Linked DNA regions of Homo sapiens. The protein of the gene in region 2 purifies or fractionates together with the protein of the main gene of each other region. This does not show direct contact. Each region holds a gene or a part of one and is shown on either strand. Other genes may lie near its edges.

Region 1 (3,500 bases), on a different chromosome or scaffold from region 2:
CGCCATTCTCCTGCCTCAGCCTCTCCAAGTAGCTGGGACTACAGGCCCCCGCCACCACGCCCGGCTAATTTTTTTGTATTTTTAGTAGAGACGGGGTTTCACCGTGATCTCGATCTCCTGACCTCATGATCTGCCCGCCTCAGCCTCCCAAAGTGCTGGGATTACAAGCGTGAGCCACCGCGCCCGGCAGCTCAATACCATTCTTATCCTGCCACCAACGCCCAGGACCTGGGAAGAAGGGCTGCAGGGGGAATGAGCTGAGAAGCCCACTACTCCCGAGACAGGGAAGCGGAACTGGAGCTTTCGCAAGGGAAGAGAACGTGAAGACTGTGAGGGAACTGCAGGGATCTGGGGGCAGGAGGGCAGGCACCACCCCCTGACCCCCCGCCCAGACCTACCTATGAGCGGGAGCTCGTCCATGGTGATGCCCTGAGATTTGAGGTGCTTCTTGATGCAGGCCAGCCGCTGCACGTTGGGGCCCCAGCGCCGGCCCAGCTTGTGGATGTGCTGAATCTGCGTGACAAACCGCATCTCATCGTTGAGCTTGCACTCGGGCCGCCAGTCCGGAGGGGGGATCACCCTGCACATCCCGAACTTCTCCACCTGAGCGCGGACCGACTCGATGTAGATGAGCGGATCGTGGAACTCCTTGGCGGAGGGCCTGAGGACGGGGATCTCGTCCATGGCCGCCCACCCGGCCTTGCCGCCGCCCTTCTCGGCCTTGCCCGAGTCCTGCGGCTTGTGCACGGACTCCGGTTGCGAGGTAGAACGATTTTCACAGGAGGCGCTGTCCGCCTTGCCATGTGCTTGTCTGCCTGGCGTGCTCTTCCCGGCCGTGGCCCGCTTCGGCCGATTCCTCTCCAGACTGCGCTCCGGCACTTCCTTCTTCACGTGTCCGTTCAGCAGACCTCTCTCGGCCGGGGCCTTCTTGCCAGGGCCTTCGGCGGGGCCAGCCGCCCCTTTCATCTTCTTGGGGGGCGACTGCGGCTTCTCCGCCTGGTGTGCCTCTTCCAGTCTCCTCTTGGAGTTCCGCAGCCCCTCCCGCAGCTGCAGGCCCTCCCGCAGCTGCCGCCCCCCCACCTCCTTAGTGCATGACTTTGGGTTCAACCTGCCACTGACCTTGAGGCCATTGACGGCGGGCCCAGTGGACTTGGACGCCCCCCCGAGGGATAGCACCTGTTTGCGGGTTTTTGCATTGCTACTTTCAGTTTTCCCTGAGATTGTGTGGTTGACAGCGGAACTGGGCTTGTGGTGATTGGGTTTGGTGTCCTTGACCAGTTCTCTCTTGGCTTTGGTGTATGTGACAGCCCCCTTCGTCACCGTGGCAGTGTACTTCACAGTTTTGGATGGTGAAGGTCTGACCTCGCGCATCTTTTTGGCACTGGTTACACCTGCACCCAGAGATGACATTCGAGTGACTCCGTTTACCTTAGAAACCTGTGGAGCAGCAGAAGCAGAGGTGGAAAAAAACGCAGAATTAGTACCTGCCACTAAAATGACCGGCCCACCCGTGAGAAAGGACCCTGGATGCTGGGGATGAACAGAGCCAGCAGCCTGTAGTGTGATAAGAAGAGATGTGGAAATACCAGCAAAGAGAAGCAAAATACACATCCAAGAATTAAGCAGCGATGTCCACTTTCAGAATCCACTATATACCTATCCTTCGTCACAGAAGTATGCAAACTGCCCCAGGCGCTTCCTAGCGGGGTTTCCTGGGTGCATTTTCACGTTCCCATTGCTCTTCCAGGAAATTTGGTGTTTCACAATGAAGACCTCCCCACGTGCCATGCAATCACCTGTCCTGAGCTTCTCAGAGTTGATGACAGCAAGATCCTGCTTCCTTGGGGGAAGTGGAGACAGACACACACACATATCCCTGTTCCAAGAAAAGTCATGTCTGCTATTTCTGTGCTCCACATAGCAGCATGACCTGCCCACAGGATTTAGAAATCTATGGCTAAAAAAAGAAGGAAAACAAAAATACTATGGAAGCAAAAGAACAGCAGTGCTCATGTGGTTTGGCTCCGGGTGGCAGGCCAGGCCCAGAGGTGTGGCTGCAAACTGTCAGCAGCTGCTGTCTGCTTTCCTTGTGGAGACGAGCCCTGGACAGGGCCAGGCTGGATGGAAGAGGGATGCCCCGACCTCACTGTTGAAGCAACACATGCCAACCCTCGTCTGCACACGCGCTTCCTATATTTTCCCACCGTTTACAAACTGTCCCATGTATCTTCCACCCTGGACAAACTTTCCCATCAGGTTCTATGGGACCTGGGCAAACAGAGACAGTCTTACAGCTTGGACGCCGTGGTAATCTTGGGACACACAAACGTCAGCGAAAATGGGGAGCGACAATGGCAGACACTAGAAATGCACAAGCTTCAAACAAGAATAATGAAGGGACCCCAATGGGCTGCTGCCAGACATGCTGGTTTCGAGAAGATGTCTTCTCTGCGTCACAATGTGGCCACTGCCCCATCACTTAACACCTTGGGCATTACTTTTCGTCTATGATATGAGGTTAAAGTCAGGGACTTCAGGGTTTTATAACCACCACCATCTCCAAAGGAAGAAGCCTAAAAATCACAAAATTACTGAGAAACACAGAATACTAGCCCCCTCTTCTCCCCAACAGCCCGAGAGGAAGGTGCCAGGGTCGGGGGAGCCTGCACTTCCTGGTCAGGAGAGCTGGCCACATGCAGTGATGGCCCAGAGGGTACTGAAACACCAGTGCCACCACAAGGCTGTGCAGGCTGCTGTCACATGGGGACGAAGGTCCCCAGATGGCGGGTAATGAGTCTTAGTGACCTTTGTACTAAACCTAGGCCTGGCCCAGGACCCCCCTTAAGTGGGGGTGGGGCATGGAATGAAACTTCCCAAAGGCGCCTGTAATCCCAGCACTTTGGGAGGCCGAGGCGGGTGGATCACAAGGTCAGGAGATTGACACCATACTGGCTAACACGGTGAAACCCCGTCTCTACTAAAAATACAAAAAATTAGCTGGGTGTGGCGGTGTGCGCCTGTAGTCCCAGCTACTTGGGAGGCTGAGGCAGAAGAACGGCGTGAACCCAGGAGGTGGAGTTTGCAGTGAACCGAGATCATGCCACTGCACTCCAGCCTGGGCGAGACTCTTGTCTCAAAAAAAAAAAAAAAAAAAAGACTTGCCAAAAACATCCAAACCAGTGGCTCTCAGCATCCCCTAGAGGGCTGATGTAAACACATCACTGGGCCCTACCGGCAGAGTGTCCAAGTCAGAGGGTCTGGGATGGGACTGAGAATGTGCATTTCTAACCAAGTCCCAGGTGATGCTGTGTGCTGACCTGGGGACCGCGCTTGGAACCACTGAATGAAGTATCAGTGAAGTTTATAAAAATCAAAAAGGAAAGAAGCCACTGAGACCTGTATTTCTCTATATGCCACCAATTAAGTGCAGTCCAATCAAAGCCACAAATTCTTGGTAGGACATCATCTCTTAGGAGCCAGGCCCATGGAGGCCTCATTCC
Region 2 (3,500 bases):
TTAAACGTTAGAATTTTAAATCTTAGGAAAAATGGAAATTATATTTCTGGATAAGTTTTATATCATGGTCTAAACCATAGATGTGACAACTCTCACTAGGTGAATTTGGACTCTCACCTATTGAGATCCAGTGCTCAAGATGAATCAACATGGGTTTAAATTCTAACTTGCCGCTTATAAGCTGTATAATCAGAGATAGGTTATTTGGCCATTCAAAGCTTCAATTTCTAATCTGTAAAATGTGGTAATAATCGTACCTCCTTCATAGAATTGTTCTAAGGATTAAATAAGATTATGCATCTAAATACAGTATAATATAAATTTGTTATATAAGTAATATCATATGCACCTTGTAAATAAGGAAAATTTGTCAATATATCACAGAAGTCATTTTGATTCAAATATAGTTTTTTCGTAGCTTTTTTTTTTTTTTTTTTTCTTTCAATAGACTGGAGTGCAGCAGCATGATCATGGCTCACAGCAGCTTCAAACTCCTGGGCTCAAGCAATCCTCCCACCTCAGCCTCTTAAGTAGCTGGGACTATAGGCATGTGACCATCATGCCTGGGTAATTAAAAAAAAAAAAACATTTTTTTAGAGACGAGGTCTTGTGTTGCTCAGGCTGGTCTCAAACTCCTGCTAGCCTGTTGATTTTTGAGCCACTAAGTAACAACAGCTTAACATGAAGTATATGAAGTCAGCTAAACACAACAGGGCCAAGGAAAAGTGTGAAGAAATTAAATTAGCTGGGCATGGTGGTGCACGCCTGTGGTCCCAGCTACGCAGGAGGATCACTTGAGCCCAGGAAGGTGAGGCCGCAGTGAGCCATGATTGTGCCACTGCACTCCAGCCTGGTGACAGAGTGAAACCCTGACTCAATCAAAAAAAAAAGAAAAAAAAAGATGAAAATGAAAAAAGGGTTAAATATCTTCAAATTTTTAACTGCTTAATAAACAAGTTATAAGTGAACAGTCAACAAACTCGTTTGTATCACTTCTTCATAGCCTTGAGAAAATGAAAGAATATAACACAGCTACCACTTCAACCACTGATAGTAATATGCCACAAGGATCTGAGACAATATGCATCCATTGTGTACCTACAAGGATCTGAGTGAATAAGCATCCCTTGTGTCCCTACAAGGACCCCAGTGAATATGCACCCTTTGTGTCTCAGAGCTCATATACGGGACTGATGTGAGCTGTGAAACACATGGGATGAATACTGAGCGTTCATAAGATCATAAAAATAACTGTAATCATTTATTTAAAACCGTTTTGACTACACGCTCAAATCTATCCTAGCTAAAAAGTAATTTTTTGAAATTCCTTTAAAATCAACTTGTACATTAATATACACAATGCCCATTTACTCCAACATCACTACTTCTTGGCTCAGTTTGGCTATTTTGTCCTAGATGATCTTACTGTATGATTCTCTCTGATCTTCGTCTATGCTGCATATGTTTCCTTAATTCAACAGTCTCAACCTTTCCTTTCCATCACATTACCTTCAAATCTTTCTTTAAAAATGAAGTTCTATATCTCCTGGAGTATTTAATAAAGATTTAACATGAATTTAACTGTGCTAGTATCATTATTGTTTTTATTAATGCTTTCTAAGAAAGTTGCTTGGGTTTTCAGTGGTCTGTTCCAGGACTATTCCCTCCACTCCTCATCATCCTATCATTTTTATTGTGTAATACTGCAGAATGTGAGGTTTTTAAGGAGTGCATATTTTGTGCTATAGTAGAAATGCCTGTATTGATTTAACATACTACTTGCCACAAAATAAAAACTCAAGTATCTATTACAAATAATAGTTGAATACAAATACTGTCACATTCATGGGTTAGTAACCACCCAATGACCAAAACTTATTAAAAATTATAATCTACATGTGTTCTTTCTACTATACTTCTAAAATTCACCTTCTCTGTTTAAGAGTTTAGCTTTAACTCTAAGAATTTGTTTTCTGAAAGATAATTTAAAGAGACAAGTCCTGATCAATTCTTAAAAAGTGATGGTTTCTGGCAATTTATCTCAAATTTTAATCTATAAGTAGGATTAGGACTATGAATTAATTTGGCATACATATTGATTCAATATTGTATTTTTTCATTAAAATAGCCTTAACAAACACAGAAAATCAAATCAAAACCAGAAATCTTATCTCAACAGATGCAGAAATAAAATGAGATCATCCAAGAGTTCTCCTGGTATACTTTTGTTTTGGAAAGAAAAGAACTTCAACAATTCAACTTTGATAACAGATTTAATATATTGCAGGTTTGAACAATGGATTATTTTGAGTATGATTCTAAAATTATGTAATAATCAAACTTTTAGGTATTTTTAAAGTGGAGGTTATTAAAGAAAATTTACGTACTAAGGGACATATATTTTTGGATGCTCTACTGGTTTTTATTTCTAATTCTAGTATCTATAAGCAAAAGCTACACCTACTTTTTTAATAGTTACATTTTGCTTATTTTAAAATTCTGGAGAGACCAGAGTTTTGTATAGACAGATGTACTGGCAGAATCAAGTATCCTACATAGAAAATTTTAAATTGTAATATAACTTTGATTATCATCCAGCAACTAATAAACACTAAATTTTACTATAGCTATGGTTTAAAACGGTTTTTCAGCATAAAAAACGGTTTTTCAGCATAAAACAAATATCTAAAATTTTCACTTCTCTTTAAATAACTGATACATGAAAGCATAAGAAGGATACTTACTGGCTGAAGCCTGAGGTTGCATACGAGGTATTCCTCCGTTTGGCACTTGAAAATTTGAGTCACTTCTGCTGCTTTTCACTGAGTCAACTTGTGTATTAGATGTTCGGGACAGGTTTGGAAGACTGCGTCTTAGTTTTTCTGCAACAGAATTTTAATTTTAAAAAAATCATATTCTTTCAGATGGAGAAAATTAAAATATTAACTAGCATTCAAAAATCAAATTGTTTATCAAACATTCTGTTTATTTTAGATGAGAAAATACAAAGGACTTGTCTTATTAAAAAAAACAAACAACTCGATCTAGGATCTGTTAAGTGGGTAGAATAAGAGAACACTTAAAGATAACCACAAATTTTATATTTAAAGCAAAATCTAAATACAGGTAACTTCATAAAACAATAAAGCAAAAACAACATAACCAAGTAAAATGAAATTCACTTTCTCTTTTATTTTTGTAATGATTCACTATTAATAAAATAGTAAACCTGACTACACTCTTGATTTACTTATCTGAAATACAAAAACTTAGCAAAAATTGTATTACTTTCATAGTGAAATATAAAGGACACTTTTTCTCTTTTTTTAATCTAGAAACTTTTTTTTTTTTTTTTTTTTTGAAAACAGGATCCTGCTCTGTTGCCCAGACTGGAGTGTAATGGTGTGATCACAGCTCACTGTAGCTTTGAACTCCTGGGCTCAACCAATCCTCCAGCCTCAGCCTCTCAAGTCACTAGGACTATAGATGTGCACCACCAT

The links.
Region 1: the proteins of SLAIN2 (region 2) and JARID2 purify together in Homo sapiens (affinity purification with mass spectrometry; one large-scale study listed by BioGRID and IntAct). This does not show direct contact.

What each region holds. Positions count from the first base shown.
Region 1 is NC_000006.12:15,494,069-15,497,568, reverse strand, and holds part of JARID2 (protein Jumonji), read right to left. Parts: exon of another isoform or gene 1,657-3,500; intron 1,438-1,656; coding exon 399-1,437; intron 1-398.
Region 2 is NC_000004.12:48,383,029-48,386,528, reverse strand, and holds part of SLAIN2 (SLAIN motif-containing protein 2), read right to left. Parts: intron 2,883-3,500; coding exon 2,745-2,882; intron 1-2,744.